2 separate regions of the Homo sapiens genome follow, and region 2 is reported to be linked to region 1. The links are microRNA targets in miRTarBase. Many come from high-throughput screens and were not tested one by one. Region 1 holds a microRNA gene; the other region holds the end of a gene's coding sequence.

What was found. Region 1 holds the annotated microRNA hsa-miR-378a-3p (ACUGGACUUGGAGUCAGAAGGC, at 2,443-2,464, shown strand). A microRNA usually pairs through its seed, bases 2 to 8, with sites in the 3' UTR of a target mRNA and lowers its output. Matches are read on the target gene's strand: a 7mer-m8 pairs with bases 2 to 8, a 7mer-A1 pairs with bases 2 to 7 and ends in A, and an 8mer does both.
Region 2: miRTarBase lists CAB39 as a target of hsa-miR-378a-3p. Seed matches in the 3' UTR shown: 7mer-m8 at 8,144-8,150.

Annotation. Positions count from the first base shown.
Region 1 is chr5:149,730,425-149,741,603 of GRCh38, forward strand. MIR378A (microRNA 378a) reads left to right here and starts at 2,401; the gene lies at 2,401-2,466. All of the region lies in intron 1 of PPARGC1B (PPARG coactivator 1 beta), which reads left to right. RefSeq lists enhancers at 1-135, 374-493, 504-553 and silencers at 1-223, 1,024-1,123, 1,134-1,183, 1,204-1,293, 1,324-1,553.
Region 2 is chr2:230,815,819-230,826,997 of GRCh38, reverse strand. CAB39 (calcium binding protein 39) reads right to left here. Exons shown (of 9, transcript NM_016289.4): 8 at 9,101-9,244; 9 at 5,923-8,482. The coding sequence ends at 8,294. Among named protein-coding and RNA genes, the nearest start is that of ITM2C, 44 kb to the left of the region's middle. RefSeq lists an enhancer at 2,430-2,599.

The DNA.
Region 1 (11,179 bases):
GGCCGGCTGGGGCTGCGGGCCCGGGGCCAGGGGTGCTGAGCTGCGGGGGCCGCAGCTGCAGCCGCGGAGGCCGGGAGGCAGCGGTGGGAGCCCTGGGGTAACTGGGGGTTCCAGGCTGCAGAGCCCCCCTTCCAGGCGCCCTGCGATGCGCTCCGTTACCGGGGCAGGGAGCCGGAGGTCTCCCGGCGCGTGCCGGAGCGCTGGGGGCGCTACGGCCGCTGGGGAGGGTCTAGCCTTGGCCGCTTGGAGTCTGCCACCCCGCGGGCAAAACTGGGGGGTACCGCGCTTCCTTTGGGAGGTGGAGGCGCGCCACGGTGTGGGGTACCCTCAGGCTGGCGCTGGGTGCTGGAGGCGCGCCGTCAGCGCCCGGCACTTGCTGCCGTACTTTCACGTGGACTTGTGGCCCCGGCACGGGTGCATGCCCGGGTCTCCGGAGTCCCCTAGTCCTCCAGGCTGTAGTCCCCAGAGTGCTGTTGCTGGCCCCCCGCGGCTTTCTACCCGCGCCCGCAGCGCGGAGTTTCCTGCCAGTTGCCGGCTAAAGGCATAAGGGTCTGCGGGGCACGTGGACATGCGGGCGGAGACAGCGTCTTCCTGGTTTCGCTATCGGGCGGAGCCCCCTGGGGGGAAAAGCCAGGCTGGATGGGGGCGGAAGGACTGTCTGGGGGCGCCTGGGTCCCCCTGCGGTGCGCGGCCCCGGTGCGCGCTCCACGATGCAGGGGGAAGGGAAGGCGAGGCGGAGTCCCAGGCACTGGCTGAGCCCGGGAGCCCCACTGGCGACACGCGCGTGACAGGAGAGGGTGCTCTGGTGTGCCGGGGCGCGGGGGAGCGAGGAAGCTGGTGGCTTGGAGACTGGGAGAGGGGTGCTGCTGGGACAAGCAGCCACCAAAAATGTCAGCACGAGGCGTGCGCGGCCCCCACCCCTTCCCCCATTTTCCCCACCCAATGCCTGTTGCAAGCATAAAGTTTGGCTCCAGAGTTAGGGCTTTTTCTCTGGGCGCCCGGCTGCGGGTCATTGGGAAGCTGAGGATGCGGCGGAACCTCGGAGGAGCCCCGGGTGCTGGCACACGCCTGGGCACGGAGAGGGGCGGCCGGGCGGAACCGGGCGCGGCTCGCGGGGGCTGGTTTGGTACCTGGAGTGGGAGCGCCGGTGCCGGCCCGTTTTGCATAACAGTGGAAGGGAGGGGGAAGGCGGAGATTGGGGGAGGGAGGTGGGAGGAGAGAGAGGGAAACTTTGCTTCTTGTTATAATCTGCCTGTCTTTGGGCGGCAGCAGCTGTCATGGGACCGGGTGGGCGGGGAGAGGCTTGCAAGCTGACTCCTTGCGGTGAAACGCGACTTGGAAGGGACGCCGCAGCCGAGACGTTCAGCTCCGGGCAGCGACTTCGGGCTGGCGGCTGGGACGGCGTGGCGTGGCAGGGTGTCGCCGAGAGGAAGCCCGCCACGCGGGAGGCAGGCCGCCCCTGGCCCGCTGCAGACGCCGCTGCGTAGGGGAGCCGCGGGGCCGCGTGGTCGGTGGCGGGCGCGCTCGGGTGGGTTCGCGGCAGAGGCCGGAGGGGCTAGTGGCGTGTGATTGCGCTTCTCGAGATCGAGGGGAATGTGTGATGAGCGGGTTGCGCGCGCGGGTGTGTGTGTGTGTGTGTGTGTGTGTGTGTGTGCACACGCCGCGCGCGCCGGGCGCGTACCTTTACCTCTGACGAAACTGCGGTGGAGCTCCCGCCGTCGTCGCCGGGCTCCGTCACACGCCCCGCGCCGGTGTCTGCGCCGAAGGCAGGTCCCAGCCTCAGTACCCCCAGAGCCGACAGCTTGGGGCTAGCGGGCACTGAGTGCGGGAGGAGGGGCAGAGTCACTCCTGGGAAGATTCTGTCCCCAGATCTCGAAATTGCCCTGGGGCGTCTCCGAATCTCTTGGCTGAAAAGCGGATGAGAGAGGCCTGAAATAGCCGGAGACTCGTTCAGGGACCCATGTCAAGAACTGTCCGCTTTGGACTGTACCCCGGATTTTAACTCGATCTTCAGTGTTTGGCTCAGCAATAATTAATTATTTTGCCCTTTAGCCGCCCAGCGAGCCTAGCTAGCAGAAATATTTCAACTAAGGAAACTAGAAAATTGAATACTCAGGTGTTTGCAGGAGCAGTGCAGTGAAAGTTAATCTGGGACATTTGCTTTTTTTATTTAACCACATGACAGGCCGAGGATCTTCTGGTGATCTTTGCCGGCCCAACTTGGGAAATGTAATTGATAGGATGAGCTTTGAGCCGCCCCTAGAAGGCTCGGAGAGCCCAGCCGGAAGAGGACCTGGGCGGGCCCAGTGTGCTCCTCCTTATTTTACAGCTGGAGAAAGAGGCTGCGAGGAGTGAGCGGCTTGTATGGGACCATGCAGCCAGAGGGTGACAGAGCCACCCAGGGCTCCTGACTCCAGGTCCTGTGTGTTACCTAGAAATAGCACTGGACTTGGAGTCAGAAGGCCTGAGTGGAGTCACCTTCCCCACTCTCTGGCTGGGTGACCCCGGAGCAAGCCATTTGAACTCTCCGAGCCTCATTTCCTCCATCTGTCAAATGGGGCTGGTGGTGCCGCAAGAGAATCCAATGGCCTGGTGGTGGGGGTGAGCAGTGTTTGCATGTGAGATGTTCTGGTTGTTCCTGCAACCCCCTCTCCTCCCCCAAACTTTCCCTGACCCTCCCCTCCTTCATCTCCCTTTGGGAGCTTTGGGGAAAGTGGATTAAATGGTAATTCATTGTCTTTGTCCCAAAAGATTGTTGTTGTCTTTGGTGGCTAATCCAGGGTTAGATTAGAGGGAGGACTTCTGTTTAGGAGACTTAACTTTTACCCATTGGGGCCAAAGTACGGAAATTTAGCAGAACAAGGATTGCGAAAGTTTCTTGGAAAGCTTTGAGGCATGGATCCCAAAGGACTGTGGGTGGCTTCACCTTTGTTCAGGCTATGCCCCTGGCCCAGAGTACCCTCACTCACCCGTCCTGCATGGCCTTCTCCTCTACTAGGCTCTCCCAGCCCAGCTTGCCCTGCTTTCTCTCCTTTGGTTTTCTGCATCTGTGTGATACAACCAAGCACTTTGTGTGAGTCTGGTGTCCAGTAAGATTCTAGCACTAGGGTTGTACCTTTTATCATTGTGCCTGCAAGGCACCTGTCAGTATGCTGAGCTGTGTTCCTTTGCTTAGCTCTTGGCTAGGCACATGGATTACAGACAGGGGTGCAGCTGGGTCCTGCCAAGCAGAAGCTCCCAGGCTAGCAGGGGAGACAGCTGGGCAGCGAGTGTGGGAGAGAGGAATGCAGAGGGCTGCAGCTGTGGGCAAAATTTTAGACCCCAAAGGCCACACAGCAAGTCCACACTAAATATGGGCTATTTGAAGTTGCTTAGGGCATCAGTCATAGATGCACAAAATGTCAGAGTTGGCAGCGGGAATGTTAGAAATCATCAGTTCTAACAACTTATTTAAAAATATTTAATTATAGAATTGTTAGAAAATACTGCCAAGCATAAAGAAAAAAATGAGAAATATGTAACATGACCCAAAGATAACCACTTAATTGTCATGTATATTCCAGACTGTTTATTTCCTGTTCATATAGATCACATCTTATTTTTAAAAAATGGAGTCGCCGGGCACGGTGGCTCACCCCTGTAATCCTAGCACTTTGGGAGGCCGAGGCGGGTGAATCACCTGAGGTCAGGAGTTCCGGACCAGCCTGGCCAACATGGTGAAATCCTGTCTCTACTAAAAATACAAAAATTAGCTGGGCGTGGTGACACACACCTGTAATCCCAGCTACTTGGGAGGCTGAGGCAGGAGAATCGCTTGAACCCGGGAGGCGGAGGTTGCAGTGAGCCGAGATCGCGCCACTTCACTCTAGCCTGGACAAAAGAGCGAAACTCATTCTCAAAAAAAAAAAAAAAAAAAAAAAAGGAGTTATCCTGAATATACTGATTTGTAACTTGGAATTGCACTGTTCTGTAACTTGTTTTTTTTTTTCCTCTTCCAAACAATATGCTGTGAACATCTTTCCACATCAGTAAATATTCTACTTAGTATCTTAATGATTATATAATGTTTTGTTGAAGATTGAACCGAGATGTATTTAATTAATCCTTTATCGTTACTCATTTACGTTGTTTAATTTTTTTATTTTGCTATTGTAAGCAATGCTAAAACGAATATCTTTTTATGTATGTCTTTGTTTCTTCCTTTAAGTTCCTAGAAGTGAAATTACTCCATCAAACTCATTCCTGGATTCTCTTCTAGAAAGATTGTACTTATTTGTGCACTGGCATGGTCTGGGAACACCTGGTTTCCTATACCCAGATAACTGTTGATATTTTCATTGTTTTTCATTTTTACCAGTCTGTTCGTCAATAAATTCTGTTACCCTTATTGTTTTAATGTGCATTTATTTGATTACTTGTGATGCTAAACTTCTTCCCCATATGATCATGGGTGACTTGTGGTTCTGTGTTTCTGAACTTGGCCCATTTTGCAATTGGTATCTTGTCTCCTCGTTGTTCTAAAGCTGGGACTGAGCACCCAGAAGGGCCCCCTGCCACATGGAGAACTGGGAAAATGGCTCCACACACCCCTTGAAGCCAGGGCCAACTTCTTTTTCAAATCAGTTTGTAGATTTGGACAAATGTATAGTGTGTGGGAGAAGATTGAAGCATAGCCTTCACTGGGTGCATTTGCCCATTCTTTATCTGTGTGAGACTTAGGGAGAGTAACTTCTTCACCTGAGCCAGAAGGGGTCATGTTCACCAGAGACCTGGGCTCCACTTTCATTGGGATTCCCTGGCTGGTGCTAATGATCAGGATGCCTGTGAAACCCAGGAAGGGCAATGGCCCAGCAGCTGTGCCCCACGGGCTCATATTTCCTCTTTACCTTAGGGCCCTCCTCTTAGCAGCTCGTGCAGGCCAGGCAGAAGTTCCACTATGCCACGTGAGTCACCCTCTTCCTTCTTCCTCTGGAATAATAGAAGAAAGACTGGCTCGAGTGAGAAGCAGTCTTGCAAAGGGGGCTCAGGCTTGGAAATGCCTAACAAGAATATTGCAGTGTTGATCCTTGCCTTCTCCTTCATCGTCATCATCAGTGACGTTTACTGAGTATCCCCTATACCCCATGCAGTTTTCTGAGCCTTCTGTTTGCACTACTACATTTCATTCTCATAGATATTGTGCAAAATGTAGGTGCTGTTGCACAGCTGTACAGATCTTACAGTTTCAGAGAACTCACTGACTTGTGGAAGACTAATTACCTTTGAGTAAGTAGAAGAGCCAGCATTAGTGGGCAGTGTTCCCAGACTATTTGACTCTAAGCTCCTTGAAGACAGGGGCTACTCTCAGTTTTTGTTCATCAGTGTTTTTCTAGCACCTTGAGCAAATGAAGGCACATAGATTGTATAGAGAGAATGCAGAGGCCGGGTGCGGCGGCTCACGCCTGTAATACCAGCACTTTGGGAGGCCAAGGCGGGCAGATCACGAGGCCAGGAGTTCGAGATCAGCCTGACCAACGTGGTGAAACCCCGTCTCTACTAAAAATACAAAAATTAGCCGGGCGTGGTGGTGTGTGCCTGTAATCCCAGCTACTCAGGAGGCTGAGGCCAGAGAATTGCTTGAACCCGGAGAATTGCTTGAACCCAGGAGGCGGAGGTTGCAGTGAGCTGAGATTGCACCACTGCACTCCAGCCTAGGCAACAGAGTGAGACTCCATCTCCAAAAAAACAAAAAAGAAAGAATGCAGAACAAGTCCCTCTGCTTCTCTACGCCTGTTTTTCAATCCTTGAAATGGGGATAATAGGCCCTCTCGATTGGGAGTGAAATAATACAGTATATCTAAAATGAGCATTAACCTGCTACTCATGAAAGTTGGAATAATTCTCTCTTTGAAGCACTTTAGAAGGACAGGATTAAGTATGGAGCTAATTTTCATGCATGCAATCTTTTTTTTTTTTTGCGTAAAAAAGAGAAGCATAATTCTTATTAGAGAGTGAAGGGTACCCAAATAAAGTCATTTGGAAGAAAATGATCAGGGTCAGTTTCTATCTGTCCTCCTACAAGGTAGTCGGAGTGCCTCATATCCATCCCATTGACACTCAGCTGATGCAGAATCGATTGGATTGATCTTTCTGTTCTTCTCCCCTTCTGATCTAGGTTTTTGTCTGTTTGTAACTAGATTCCTGCAGTTACTACCAAAGAGATCTTTGCTGCACCCGACTTTGTCTTCTTCCATTTGCCCTTAGCCCAGATGGCAGATCAGTCCTCTTAGAGTGCATATCTGACATCACTCTCTTGCTCACACATCTCCCATGGCTCCTCAGTACATTTTTTTTTCTTTTAAGACTTTATTTTTTTAGAACAATTTCAGGTTCACAGCAAAATTGAAAGGAAGGTACAGAGATTTGCCATATACCCTTGCCCCCAACATGCATAGCCTCCCCCATTATTAATATTCCCCACCAGAGTTGTAGATTTGTTATAATTGATGAACCTACATTGACACATCATTGCCACCCCAGAGTCTGTAGTTTACATTAGGGTTCACTCCGTGGGTTTGGACAAATCTGTAATGACAGGTATCTACCATGGTAACATCACACAGAATAGTCTCACTGCCCTGGAAATCTGCTCTACCTTTTCATTTCTTCTGTCCCCCAACTCCTGACAACCACTGATCTTTTTACCGTTTGTACAGTTTTGCCTTTTCCAGAATGTCATATAGTTGGAATCACGCAGTATGTAGTGTTTTCAGATTGGCTTTTTTTTCACTTGCTGATAGGAATTTAAGGTTCCTCCATGACTTTCATGGCTTGATAGCTTAGCTCTCCGGTATTTTAAAATTAAAGCCTAAACTTAAACCTGATTTCCGAAGGCCTTCGGGTACTTTTAAGTTGGAGAGTTAGGCCCTTGACTTTGTCTTGAGCTGTCTGCTTTTACTTTGGGATCCTGTACCTCCCCAGGAAAACCCTGAATTTTCCTCCTGGAGGCTTAGACTCAGGCTGCCCTTTTCTGTGTCTTCCTTCTCCATTTCCATGATTCATCCTGCGAGCCCCTGCTCACCAGCCACTGTTTTGGCGATGCCCTCTCCCTCACCTCCAAGCCAGCTGTTCCATCTTCTGTGTGGCAGTACGCAGGGCCAGCAGAGCACTGACCTTGGAATCCCCTTACTGGGTTTGAGTCTTGGTTCTGCGATTTGCCAGCTTCGAGGCCTTTGGCGGGTCACATAACCTTTCTGAGCTTCTGTTTCCTGAAGTGAGAAGATATGATGATTAAGATTGTTGTGAAGAGGCCGGGCACAGTGGCTTACGCCTGTAATCCCAGCGCTTTGGGAGGCTGAGGTGGGTGGATCACCTGAGGTCAGGAGTTCGAGACCAGCCTGGCCAACATGATGAAACCGCGTCTCTACTAAAAATACAAAAATTAGCCGGGCATGGTGGCGCATGCCTGTATTCCCAGCTACTTGGGAGGCTGAGGCAGGAGAATCACTTGAACTGGGGAGGTGAAGGTTGCAGTGAGCCAGGATCACACTACTACACTCCAGCTTGGGTGACAGAGTGAGACTCTGTCTCAAAAAAAAGATTGTTGTGAAGAGTCAGTGAAAATCGAATGACAACATGGATTTAAAGCATGTAACACATGCCTGGCACAGAATAAGCACCAAATAATAGATATATCTCTTCATCTATAGATCATATTAAGTGTTAGGACATCACTCCTGGACGTTAAGCTCCACAAAGGCAAGAATTTTCGTTTATTTCATCCACCTTGTTTTTCACCATAATGAATAGATCAGTGCCTGGAATATAACAGACATTTAATCAGTCCTCATTGAATGATTAGGAAATCACTCCTGGACGTTAAGCTCCACAAAGGCAAGGATTTTCGTTCATTTCACCCACCTTTTGTTTTCACCACAGTGAATAGATCCGTGCCTGGAACATAACAGACATTTAATCAATCCTCATTGAGTGAATGAATATGCTAGACTATGAGCCTCTTCAGGGCAGACACTGCTTCTTGTTTTATATCTTCAGTCTGAGTGTTCCTGAGAAGGGATGGAATACAAGTCTGGTGGAATGAACTGGAATGTCCTCTCCCCGCCACCATCCCTGCCATTTTAATGTATTCATAGCCTACCTGAACTTTAAGCCCCCTCTTGAAAGCCTGCCCTCTCTGGAAAGCATTTTTTTTTTTTTGAGATGGCGTCTCACTCTGTCGCCCAGGTTGGAGTGCAGTGGTGCAATCTCGGCTCACTGCAACCTCCCGGGTTCAAGCGATTCTTCTGCCTCAGCCTCCCAAGTAGCTGAGACTACAGGCATGTGCTACCACACCTGGCTAATTTTTATATTTTTAGTAGAGATGGGGTTTCACCATATTGGCCAGGCTGGTCTTGAACTCCTGACCTCGTGATCCGCTCGCCTCGGCCTCCCAAAATGCTGGGATTGCAGGCATGAACCACCGCGTCCAGCCTCTAGAAAGCCTTTGAAGCTAACTTCTTCTGCTTCCACCACCCACGTGGCTTGTGCCACTTACTATCCCATGGTATCTGAGTGTGCTTTTATTCCTACAACTGGATTGAAAGCTCTGGGAGGACAAGAAATTATTTTTATCCTGGACTAGCAGTGTGGTTGCCTAGAAGAGCGTTTTATAGGTTTCAATGTCAGGTTCTCTGAAAGAACTTTGTATTTTAAACATTTGACTATGGAAAATGTCAACTCATACAGAAGTAGACAGTAGAGAGAACAGTATGGTGAATCCCCATCCCTCCATCACCCAGCGTCCACTGTTAAAGACTTGCAGTCACTCTTATTCCATCTCCATGTACAAGACGTCATTTCATCTGTGACTATTTCGTTGTGTATCTGTGAAGAGACTTCTGAGTGCTATTGCATGGATTTCTCCCAATAACTGTGAGACTGGCTTTCCCCATTTTGTAGGTGATGAAACTGAGGTGCAGGGAGGTTAGGTCAGTTGCTCAGGGTCTTGAAGCTAGTGAGCGGCTTACCTGGGATTTGAACCTTGACTGTGAGCAGCTCCCTCTCCTTCCAGGCTTGGGGCAGGGGGCCCTTGGAGATACAGGTACACCTTGCCATTTCCAGAAGAGAGGAAGCTGAGGTCCAGCTGCTTGGCTGGAGGAAGCCCAGGCCCCTGACTCCCTGGCAAGTTCATTTCCAGTGTCAGGTCTTGCGAGGTGCGGTGGGCCTTAGCTCTTGGGGAGGGCCAGGGTGGGTAGTCCTCTGAGAGACACCATTGCCCTGAGTGGCTGGGCTTTGGATGGCCGTGGGACCCTGGGGCAAGGTCTACCACCACCCCTGGACAGACTGCATTTTCTTCCTACTCTTGTCATTCCTAAATCCCAAAGGTCCTCCTTGCAGCTGACCACGAGTTCTCTCATGAGATGCTCAGGACTACCCAGTGAGGGAGAGGGAGCCAAGGGGTCAGCAGCTGGGTTCACAGAGCTCAGAGAGGAGGGGCCTGGCCTGAGGTCACCCAGCTGGCCTGGGCACAGGGTTGACAGGCTCTTGGTGGCATCTGGACCCTTGGGCTCCCACCCTGCTCTTTCCTCAGGATAGAGACCGAATTGCTACCCAGATCTGGAGTAGGAGACCAGAGACGAGACCTGAGAGACTTTCACAAATGGTGGGATAAAGCCATTGATTAACTGTCCCCAAAGGCCTGTGATGACTGTTTGGTGTTTTAGGTAAGAAAACAAACATTTGCCCTAATTGTTTGCTTCAGTGACTGAGAGGGCTGTGAATTCTAGGATGGGGTTCTGCTTGGGCAAAGCCCTGGGAGCTTGGCAGAGAATTTCTTTTGGCCTTCTTTTTCTATCTAGGAAATGGGGACGATAGTAGCATATGCTTTGAAGGCTTTTAGTGAAGAATAGTTGAGGCAATGTCTGTAAAGTGTTCAGAAATGCTCAATGAGTAGTAACCCTTGTTATTATGAAAAGGGGACACATGTAATGCAGACCCTGCCATTTGTCTTCCCTCTGAGCTCCAGGTCCTTGATCTAGTCGAGGCCCTGAGGTTCTTCTTGCAGAGTGTTTTTTCCTCTCTACTTGTGGGGCAGGTGACGAGGGATCCCATCCAGCCTTAGCAAGTGTTGCAATACTGACTTAGGAAACCACTTCTAGTGAGATGCCACTTGAAGAGAGAAGAAATACCCAATAGTGGTTAAGAGCTCTAGGCTTTGGAGTTTTAACTGCCTATGGTTTAAATCAGTGCTCTACCACTTACTAGCTATGTGACCTTGAGCAAGTATCTTAACTTCTCTGACCTCAGTTTCTTCATATATTATCCCCCAAATTGGGGATAATAATAGTATGCTCTTTGTAGGATAACTTAAGATAGCTGCAGATAATTAAGGCTTGCAGCTTCACCTGACATATAGTAAGCGCTCAATAAATGGTGGTCACTAGGATGATGACAACGACAATGATGTAAAAATATAAAACACACAAATGTCAATTTGAGCTTTCTGGGAGTTGGGAGTGCCTTAGAGACGATCTTGCTTAATGCCCTTACCTTGAAGGAAGGAAACAGACTAGAAACAGATCAGAGGATGCCTTCAGGTCACTCAGCAGAGGCAAGACAGGGCCCTCGGCTGCTGTCTGCTTGGCCGGGCTGGCTCTGAGTAGCTGGGACTCAACTGTCTGGGACCCACTGTCTGGGAACTCAGCCGGGTGAGCCCTGCTTGGCTGAGAGATGGATGCTCCCCGACAGCTCTGCAGCCGTATTTTTTCCCTGTGATTGCCTGGCAGAACATAGTCATTTAGCAGAGGGAATGCGAGGAGATGTTAGAAACCAACCAGGCCCTGAGCAGTTGCAGCAGCCGGCCCACGAGTCGCTCCCTGATGTTGCCATGGCAAACAGCCTTGGCAACGTGGCTGCTCGCGCCTTTATTTCTGGTCTCAGGCTCTTTGCAAGGAAGTGTGGTACCCAGAACACTGGGGAGGGCCCTGCCCTGGATCCTTGGCACTGAGGGCAACCCGGCCTTTATGCTGCTAGCAGTCCCAGGCCACAGCAGCCCCTGCTCAAAACACCTGCAGACCCACCCTGCCTTTGCAGAAGCAGACTACTGGGTATGGGATTTGAAGCCTCAAATGTCCATGTAGCTCACTATCCATCTATTTGTCAAATACTGTGTTTGGCAATGCCATACTGTTCCCACCACTGC
Region 2 (11,179 bases), not on the chromosome of region 1:
GGGAGGAGGCCAGGCAAGGGTGATTCCCACATTGCTAGCTTAAGAAACCAGGAGGCAGTGGCATCCTGAGCTTTGGGGTCCTGATTGGTGGGCCTCCATCTAGTTCTGATTTGGACACAGTGCAGGTGAGATTGTTGTTGACCTCTGTGTGCTGCAGCCACTGGGCAGTTGGTGTATTAGTCTGTTCTCATGCTGCTAATAAAGACATACCTGAGACTGGGTAATTTATAAACGAAAAGAGATTTAGTGGACTCACAGTCCCACATGGCTGGGGAGGCCTGACAATCATGGCAAAAGGCAAAAGGCACGTCTTACATGGCGGCAGACGAGAGAGAACTTGTGTAGGGGAACTCCCCTTTATAAAACCATCAGATCTCGTGAGAACAGCATGGGAAAGACCCACCCCCATGATTCAGTTACCTCACACAAGGTCCCTCCCACAACATGTGGGAATTATGGAAGCTACAATTCAAGATGAGATTTGGGTAAGGACGCAGCCAAACCATGACAGTGGGAAAGTGAATTCTGGAGAAGGTGCTGCATGTGTTGCTGCATCCCCAGACGCCCCTGAAACCCCCGTGCCCTTGTACTTGGTAGCATGTGCAGGATGTATATCATCGTCCCCACCCCAGCCATTTTTTTCCCTCCTTTTCATTATGAAATATTTCAAGCATACAGAAAATTGAAAGAATTTTACAGGAAAAAAAAAACGTAATGGAAAAGAGACAAATATTCATGCAGAAAAATGGTAAATAATGTATGTAGATACTCCATTCTCAGGAAGGTGGAGCATAACTCCCTACTTGGTAGGTGTGGGCTGCTTATAGTGACTTCCTCAGAGTACAGAACTGAAAGAGGGAAAATAAAAAGCAATTGTGGAGAAACCTGACAAACACAACCTCAGCCGGGCAATCAAGGTCAACATCAACAGGGAGCAGTCATGTCCATAGTGTGTACCCTTGATATGACGTGATGAAAACAGCACTTTAGGCTGGGCGTGGTGGCTCACGCCTGTACAGCACTTTGGGAAACCGAGGCGGGTGGATTGCTTGAGCTCAGGAGTTTGAGACCAGTCTGGGCAACATGGCGAAACCCTGTCTCTACCAAAAGTACAAATCAGTCTGGCGTGGTGGCACATGTCTGTGGTCCTAGCTACTCGAGAGGCTGAGGTGGGAGGATTGCTTGAGCCTGGGAGGTGGAGGTCGCAGTGAGCTGAGATCGCACCACTGCATTCCAGCTTGGGTGACAGAGTGAGGCCCCATCTCAAAAAAAAAAAAAAAAAAAAGAAAAAAAGAAAAAAAAAGAAAGAAAAAGAAAAAAAAGCACTTAATCTGTATGGTCTTCCTCCCAAACCCCATAATCTCATCCTAATCATGAGAAAAAAGGCAGACAAATCCCAGTCGAGGGAGATTCCACAAATACCTGATGAGTACTTTTTGAAACTGTCAGCAAAAACCAAAGTCTGAGAAACTCTCAACTAAATAGAACATAGGATCCTGGATGGGATCTGGGAACAGGAAAGAGACATCATGGAAAACAAGGAACTCAGAACAAAGTATGGACTTTACCTAATAATAGTGTATCCATATTGGTTCCTTAATTTTAACAAATATAACACAGTGATGTGAGATGTTAATAACAGGGAAGATGGGGTGCAGAGTATATGGGATCTCTCTGTGTCATCTTTGCAACGTTTTCTGTAAATCTAGAACTCTTCCAAAAAATAGTTTCTTAGCAACCAAGACAACCATATACCTACCACCTAAACTCTACCTTTCACATGTTACTCTCGTGCATCTGTCCCGCCCTCTGTCACTCTTTTCTTTTCTTTTTTTTTTTTTTTGAGATGGAGTTTTGCTCTTGTTACCCAGGCTGGAGTGCAATGGCACCATCTTGGCTCACCACAACCTCCGCCTCCTGGGTTCAAGCGTTTCTCTTGCCTCAGCATCCTGAGTAGCTGGGATTACAGGCTTGCGCCACCACGCCCGGCTAATTTTTTGTATTTTTAGTAGAGACAGGGTTTCTCCATGTTGGTCAGGCTGGTCTTGAACTCCCGACCTCAGGTGATACGCCCGCCTCTCCCTCCCAAAGTGCTGGGATTACAGGCTTGAACCACCGCGCCCGGCCTCTGTCATTCTTTTCATAACCCCCTTAGACTGTCCCTGCCTTTTTGCTCAAAAAGGCGTCCAGGACGCTCAGGGCATTTGGGTCCACGACATCCCAGGTTCTCTGTTGTTGCCCAGATTTGCCCTAGAACGCTCCATTCCCTCCAGCTCAGAGCCTGCTGAAAACAAGGAGCTCTACTGCCACCCAGTGGACATTTTTAAAAAATGAAAGCAAGTTGACTGCAGGGAAAGCTCATGGGGACCCCGCAAGGCAGAGAGGCCCCTTCAGGCGTCTTTGAGCTGCCTTAGCACCATTGGGCGGGCTCTGCCTCCACATAGACCCTAGCCCTCTCTCCACTGTCCCCATCCAAATTCTTTTCTCAACCTGGACGTTTCCTAAAATTCTGGCTCCAATTCCCAATTGTGCAATCATTTTGTTGGGCTAGACTATACCTTTCAAGTCTTTTTTTTTAAAGGGGGCAGAACATGAGAAAATCTGGGGTTTTCCAGTTTTGCTAGCATGTTTGATGACCATGAAGAACTATTTGGGAGCAGATAGTGTGTCCTATCCAGCTGCTTTTGAAAGGATAAGAGTCAGGGGGCACTGGCTGACTGGGGGACAGCAAGCCTGTGTCGGGGGTCTCAGAACAGCTTCTTTAGGCAGTAGGAGCTGTGGCCAAGAGCGGCTCTGCTGAGCTGGGCTTCTCCCTACCTGGTGTCAGGCTTTGATGCATACTCGGGGGCCAGCCTCTCTTAAATATTGAGGCAAAAGAGACAGGAAGGATGCTTCCAGAAGGGCAGGCAGCCCTGTTTGCTGTCTCACTGGCCTCCTCTTTCAGGAGAGAGCCCTCTCATCTGGCTGATCACGGGCATGGCTGTGAGTTAGAAGAAACAAAATGAGCATGTCTTAGTTTGGGTTACCCCAGAAGCACACCCTCAGATAAGGGTTCCAGTGTTGGTTATTTATTTGGGACTTGATCCCAGGAGATACTACAGAATGGGTTGTGAGCCGGGGATGGAAATAATCTGACAAAAGGTTCCTAGCAAGCTGGTTAATGCAGTGGGCATCGGAGCTCAGCCCTGCTGCGGGCTCTGGAAGGCAGGAGTGCAGCTGTCCCAGCTGAGGGCCAAGGACACTGGCAGCTGAGGGCTGCTTCTGGGGACAGTCATTCCTGCATTTGGGGCCAGAGGAGAGTGCCGAGGCAGAGTCACAGGTATTCACAATAAGCAGAAGCGGGTGTCAAGGACGATGTGGGGCACTGACAGGGCCCTCTTAATGTGTTTGGATGACACAGGTTGGCACCCAACCCTACCTCACGCCCCGGATCTTCAAAGAAGTGAGTTCCCAGAAACCAGCAGGTCCTCAATGGCTTAGGGAGAGCCCAGGACCACACAGAGATTCAGCTAAGCGTGAAAAGGTGCCCCTTGGGTTAGGAGGGGACTTGGTGCAGAGGGACCCTCACCTCCTTTTTCTCCACACAGGTGAGGACTTTAAGATGATGGGATATATGCAAAGGTCCCCATGAATGTGTGTGAGCAGTGTTTCTGGGGAGGGGTATTTGCTCCCTGGGATTGGTTTGGGCTAGAGGGGTCTTGAGGTCTTCATGCTGCAGTTCACGGGGAAGAAAGAGGGAGCCATCAGGGGTGCAGTCTTGCCTGGAAACTTCCTCTGGGCAGAAGCCTCCCCAGCTGGCCTGCGGCTCTTCCTGCCTTTGCACGCCAGTTGCATCTCAAGGAAACAAGACTCAGCTACCAAAACTTAGTGCTAGACCATGCTGTTTCCACGGAACACCAATATTTAGGTGATAATAAATTATTACCAAGGGAAAGGGGCTCTTGTGAGCTAAAGCTCATCTGTAAAACCTGTCAATCTTGTGCAGAATGTTGAAAAAATGTCACTCTTTTCCAGAAATCTCTGGGGTCTGTCTTACTACTGAAGTGCTACCTAGAAAAAATAATAAAAATTTAACAAATTGCAAAGGATGAAATCTTCTGCATAGAAACCAGGGGGTCTGGCTGGGGGTGGTGGCTCATGCCTGTAATCCCAGCACTTTGGGAGGCCGAGGCGGGCAGATCACGAGGTCAGGAGATCGAGACCAGCCTGGCTAACACGGTGAAACCCTGTCTCTATTAAAAAATACAAAAAATTAGCAGGCACCTGTAGTCCCAGCTACTCAGGGGGCTGAGGTAGGAGAATGGTGTGAACCCGAGGTGGAGCTTGCAGTGAGCCGAGATCGCGCCACTGCACTCCAGCCTGGGCGACAGAGCAAGATTCCGTCTCAAAAAAAAAAAATAAAAAAATAAAAAAAGAAAAGAAACCAGGGGGTCACGGTCCTTGGAGATTTAGCTCCCGGCGGACGTGCCCTCAGGTGGAACCTACCCCACCTTCCAGCCACAGTGGGGACGGACACTTGGCTGCCAGTTCTCAGACATGAGCAAGGTTTTAGAGGACACTGTAAGGGCACACACAACATGAAGGCCTCATATAGCTGTGCAGTGACACAGCCTTGTGCAACCACCACCATCCTCTTCAGTCAGCGTGAATGCTGGTGGCAGGATTCCTGGAGGTTCGAAAGCTTAAGATCCTTATTAGGCACTTCTTGGGTCTAAAGTGCTCGGTGGCGGAGGTGTGCTGGTTGACCGCAAGCAGACTGTCAACGGGTGAAAGCGGATGGTATTCGTAGAGAAAAGCTCCAGTGGGTCTTTCTGCAGTACTGAGATTGCTGACTGGGGAGAATCTTACCCTGTCCTTCATGTCTTCTGGAAACCAGATGGTCAGTGAGGACACAGCCATGGCCAGGGAGAAGATTCCTGACACATCCGGGAGTACCTGAAGGGCGGTGTGTGCTGGGCTGCCCGCTCTTCCCCTAAAGGACAACTTTGGCACGTTGGCAGGTGGGCTTTCTCATGACCGTGAGTGGCTCTAACCTCCAGCATGAACAAGGTATTGGGCACTGACTGCAGCCTCAGAGCACTTCCCGATCAGGACCTTGTTGGAGCCTAACTAGGAAGGCTGGGTGAGAACTGCACTACTCCTGAGCTGCCTGAAGTGCAACGTTCTGGAGCTTCTTTGGCAAGGGGAGGAGGGCATTTGATGGGGGATTGTGGTAGGAAGTGGAATTTGAGCTGAAGCGTGAATCCAGTCCTCAGCCTGGTGATCCTTATAAGTGGCCAAGTCACAAGTTATGACTTAATGGGCCCTTGTCACCTTTGGGGAACTACAACGTACAAGTAGACTGAACTACTTGACAGAAATAACAAATAGGACATTGTTATTCGGATGAAGTGTTTTTGGCAAGAGCATGTCCCTTGCCTTCACTCCAGAGAATAAGATTTCATTTACTGACAGGGGTTAAAGTCGAGGGCAGGGCTGTGAACTAAGGATTACGAGGCACCCTGGAAGGCAGACGAGGGACATTCTTTACGGTGCCAGAGTTCTTGTGCCTGCTTCCACGGTCCCCTCGCCTTCATGATCATTTCACATCAGTAACCTGTGAATACTCCGGGCCGAGTGTTCTAGTTTAGCCTCGCGGTGTTGCTAACAGCGCAAGAGAGGATCTACTCCTCAAACGTTAGGGTCTAAGAAATGGTACCATTAAAAGGTGTGATTTTACTCAGGAAGGGTAAGGAAAACATGAGCACGGGGGCGGTGGGGGGGAAGTGAAGCCCCTGAACAGGGAAAAAGGCAGACAGGAATGGGTGTTAACTGTCCCTCCACTTTCAGTTGGTGATAAAATTCGGGCTTGTGTGTCTCCTGATGAAGCTGTTCACAGTAACACAAATGCAACTGTCTATAACACATCATAAAGACAGACAATGCTGTTTCTCCAAAATTTTATTTTAATTTAAATTACAGGGCCAGCCAGATATTCTGATAAGAAATTCACTTTTCCTTAGGAGAAAGAAAATGCTTTCATGGCATTGTTAACAAATGTATACATCTCCACTTTTTTAAGGGTTAAAAATCACATTAAGTAACTGCCTTATGTAAAATTAAACCTTTATAACACAAAAACCACTTCCAGTATAATAGTCTTGGTAATATGAATATATTAAATGATCATAACTTCAAATGCAACATTTCAAACTTAAATGTTTTCACATTGTTTTGCTTAAAAACAAAACCCACGAAGTCTGAACTACCTTCAGATTCCAATGTAAGAGTAACATGAATGTTGTGTCTGACACGCTGCACCCTCACTTCTTCCACCTAAAAGGCTACGACCTCACTGCCAAAGTGGAAGCTGTTCTAGATGTGTAAGTTCTAAGAATGAGCTTGGCAAGAAGACGTTTCTTCCACTTGGTGTAATCCATGTTTTTACACTAACTCCATACACACAGCACTACACCACAAAGCCAGGACACCACATCACGGCCAAGTCTTCCTTCCTAAACATCCAAGAGATTTTTTTTTCAAGGAGACTAGATTGCCTTATTTCACACAGATTCTGGTAAAGACAGTCTTGAGAAATGCCAATTATGATGTAGACTGCCATTTTAATAAAAATAAAATATATCTATATTTTCTGGAGCTATTTTCCTAACTGGTGTTCCTGAAGGTTTAAAACCTGCTGAAACAGCAATTGGGAGGCCCATTTTACTGGCCAGTATATAATTCCATTAGTAAGAGAGGCTAGCAAAGAATAATCATATCAATTTCTTAATCAGCTGCAGCCATGCTGAATTTGAACTGGCAAACTCTGATTTGTCAGTTGTTAGTTGTGATCTTCATATCACTAAAATGAACAGATACCATTCTAATAACTTTACATAGATATAGTCTAGAAGACATTGTTCTGCCGTGGTCACAGTAACAAAAAAGTGGTGCAAAATCAGTTACTTTATAAATACTGATAATTTGCAGCATTAAGGAACAGGACATTAAAAAAAATAAATTTCCCCATAGGACACCTATGACTAGGAAGTCGTCTTTTCCTAAGAGAAGCCAAAGTTTTAATTATTCAGTTCACAACTATTGTACTGGGTTACTTAGTCTAAGAAAGAAAAGGTGCTCTACAGAGATTTCCCACACACACAAAGAATCAGCATTAATTTAGCATAATCTCTATCATTCACAGATCTGGCAGATTCATTAACTCATTTAAAATGAATAAGGCCAATAGGATGCAGGAAGGTGTGGCTGACTGAGCTCCAGGGCTGTATCGCAGCTTATTGATGGCACCCCATTAGGTAACTGAATACAAAGGACTGGTTTACTTTCTTTTTCTTTTAATGCTGTGATACTTAAATGTTAAATCAGCATTTTCATGTGATCTGAAGTATTTCAATTACATATGAGCATTCATTGTTTTTTGCAAAAACTCAGTATTAGGTAATAGTTACATACTACTACAATAACATTCCTCTGCTGTACAAATTAAACCATTTAAAAGAAATGAGCATTCTAAGAATTATATACAAAAGAAACCTTGAAGCAGTGTTGAAATGAAATGCAAGGTGTCATTGCTAGCTCTACTGTTTTAAAGTATCTTTGAAAAGTAAAATTAACAAATACCCTTCAACATATCCAGGTTTACAAGTCTCAAGAAAATCAAATGTCAAAAAATTCTAGAAAGCTGTGAAAAGCATATATACATTTTCCTTATGATCTTATGAGGCTTCTTTACACTTTTAAGAAGTTGCTAAGTTTCAGTATCAATTTATTCGCATGTCAACTTTAGCTGCCCCCAAACTCCCATTTTGGATAGCTCCCCTCTGATTTCAGATAAAGCTCTGCGTCATCTTCCTTCAGCGAAGGTGCGCGACCTGAAGGTGCGCGATCTGACGCAGGGATGCCAGGTGTGCACTTGCCACACTGCACTCAGATCGCCAACAAAGATGGGTGCAAACACATAGGTCTAATCTGATATCAGTGCCCTCTTTCCTAAACCACACTCTCATCCATACATTTGCCTTCATGAACCCAGCCATGTTCAGAACTCCCGTAGCACAGTCTTTGAATTCTGAAATGACACAAAGATCAAGAGAAAGCCCACATGTGCCCTAGTGTGCAAGCAGCAGCAGCTACGATCTCCAACCTGGACTGAAAAACAAAAGGGTAAAATGAAAAACCGTTCACTTAACAGCAGATTAGCAGTAATGTTCCTCATGAATCAATAAGAGTGCCTGATGCTGAATAGCTAACAGCAAATGCTGAATTTGGATTTAACATAGATGTTTATTGGAGATTAAGCTTCTTGCTGAGCTGGTCTCTTCAAATCCCTGATCTGTTTAACTAAATAGGTCTTCTCGTCGTTAAACTGCTCATCCTCCGTCCTGTCGTTCTGAAACTTGCTGAGGAACTCTATGAGTTTGGCCTGGTTCTTGAGGAGGATGTCTAGGATGGGCTGCGTCTTGTTAGGATTGGCTACAAACACCTGCGTGGAGAGAAACGCACATGAGGCACAGAGAAAGGACAAAACGCAGCCACACCTGAGCTGCGGCCACAGTGCAGAAAAGCAGAGCTGTGCTCTCCTGGGATGGCGCTGAAGTCAGGGTCATTAGGTTTTGCTTTAGAAGGCGTTATTTTACAATTTGGAAAAAAAAATAATAATTACATGTTTTAACACAAATACGACTGATAAACTCATTCTGCCAGCCCTGCAACACAGTGTTTAGTATTAAATACAGACTTTGATTTTAGAATAAAATGGGCAGAAATTATTTCTCAGCACAAGAGGTCAGATGGGATTTTAAGAATGAAACCTCCACAGAAAGCATTAAGAAATGCTTTTGTTTTGCAGTTACTAATCTTCTAGGCCAAAGATAAATGACACTCTTCTATGAACAAACCTTCTCGTTCCCAGATCCAAACAGTAACCCGTTTCCAGGTCTACCTTTCTGTTTAAAAGTCATAGCACACAAATATGAAAAGTGACTGAATTTAATTAAGTCACCTGGATTACCAGAGTGAGGCTAATAATTTCCGTTATTTGCGAATGAAAGACGACGAACAATTCCAGTGGACAGTATCACTGATGCTTCTAGTACTCTACCTTAAAAACGTGAAAGGCCTCAAACTGGATGTTGCGACTTTTGTCTCGCAGCAGGTTCATCATTAATTTGAGGTTCTCAGGTTTACTGATGTATTTTGTCATAATTGTGAAGTTGTGTCTATCTAGTAGTAGTTCACCGAGAAGCTGAGAAGACATTTAAACAATTACCTTGTTATTAAAACTTAAAGAAAAATCAAAGTTTAAAAAAACAATTTATTTTATAATCATCAAGTATAGAGTATTAGTAGGCACTCAAAAGACCGAAGAACTGAACTGAATTACAACCTAAAAGCTACGAAGGGCCTTCTCTCTGCCACCTGAATGCCTTCCTCCCTTTCCCTGAGAGATGAAGTCTACGGGAGGCCTGACGCTTCTCTCTGCAGAGGATGTTCAAGATGCCCCCTTGGCCCCAGTGGGAGACTCTCAAAGCCTCCCCTTTAAGCGTGCATTTGTGTTAGCTCACTAAAAAGAAACTATTCAAGAAAATGGTCAAAAGTTATTGATTATTCCTGTTAACTAACCACAAACCTTAGCTTAATTTAAAACAACTATTTTTAAATTTTATTTAGCGGGACTTTCCAAGATAAAGGGTTTTGTGTCCAAAGTTTTCCATTTGTGTACCCTGCACATGCCACAGTTATCGTTTTATCACAGCTAATTCAGAAAGGTTTACACAAGTGAGTATTTTTCTGCTCCTTCTTAGGTCTCCTGAAGATAATCCAGTGTTTTCTTACTGACCCCTCACCATCACTAATTATACCAATTAATGCTAAAAAAACATCTGTTTACTTCAAGGGTTTACTAATTTCTGGAGAGTTGGTTATATCATATAAACTCATAACTTTTAAACTGTCACGGCTTACTCTTTCCTAAAACCAGCAGTCACTTCTTCAGGTTGTCAACATGCCAACAACCTGGCCAAGGCTGAGTGTGCAGAGCCGGCAGTGGGGCAGGTGCCAAGCTGCGGTCCTTGTGGGCGGTGGCAGAGCTGTGGAGAGCTTGGTCCCTGGTGCCAGCCTGCCTGGGTTCCAATCCTGGCTCCCTACTTCTTGTGAGCTCTGTAATCTTGAGCACGTTACTGAACTCCTCTGTGTCTCGGTTCCATCATCTGTATAATGGAACAGTGCCTCTCTCTCAGGAGAGTGCAGTGAGAAACGAGCATCAGTGTGCAAAGCACGTATCAGGCCTGTATCTGCAGAGATGTGAGTGAGTGAGGGCTAAGGGAAGAAAAGGCGCAAATAGCGGCTCTGTGGCTTTGCTTTAATTGCTTTTGTTGCTTCCTTTCTGGGTTTCTGGCTATGTTCTAGATACTTGAAGTTTCCAGGTAACTGATCTCTGGATAAGTAACTTGTCATCATATTAAATAAAAAATGAGCTGATGTACAAGAAAACAAATCTATTTTACTTAGGCTTTATAAGGAACTCATAGGAAAAACTGAAAGGAGTAGGCTTCATATCAATGTGAATCACAAAATCTATTCTTACGGTGAGAAGCAACCAGTATCTTACAAAGACTGAAAAGTTAGTATTATGTGATTTATAGCTTTCGTGTTCTTTTTCTATCACAGAAACCAAAGAAAATCTGAAGGAAGATGACTTCAAATATGTAATTCTTTTTTTATTTTTTGAGATAGTCTCACTCTGTCACAAAGGCTGGAGTGCAGTGGCACAATCTTGGCTCACTGCAACCTCCACCTCCCGAGCTCAAGTGATTCTCATGCCTCAGCCTCCCAAGTAGCTGGGACTACAGGCTTGTGCCACCACACCTGGCTAATTAATTTTTGGGGCTAGAGACAGGGTTTCACCATGTTGGCCAGGCTGGTCTTGAACTCCTGACCTCCATCCATCCACCCACCTTGGCCTCCCAAAGTGCTGGGATTACAGGCGTGAGCCACCATACTCAGCCCAAACATGTAATACTTTACTAAAAAACTTGGGAGTCTTGCATAGGGAATATAAATTTGCTGGCGACATAAATATGGGAATAAATAAATGCCAATGTGGCTACGAAAAAGAGAGTACAAATTAAAATCCATCTTTAAAGTACGGCTGGTGCTGAAGCCGCTCCATGTGTTCATG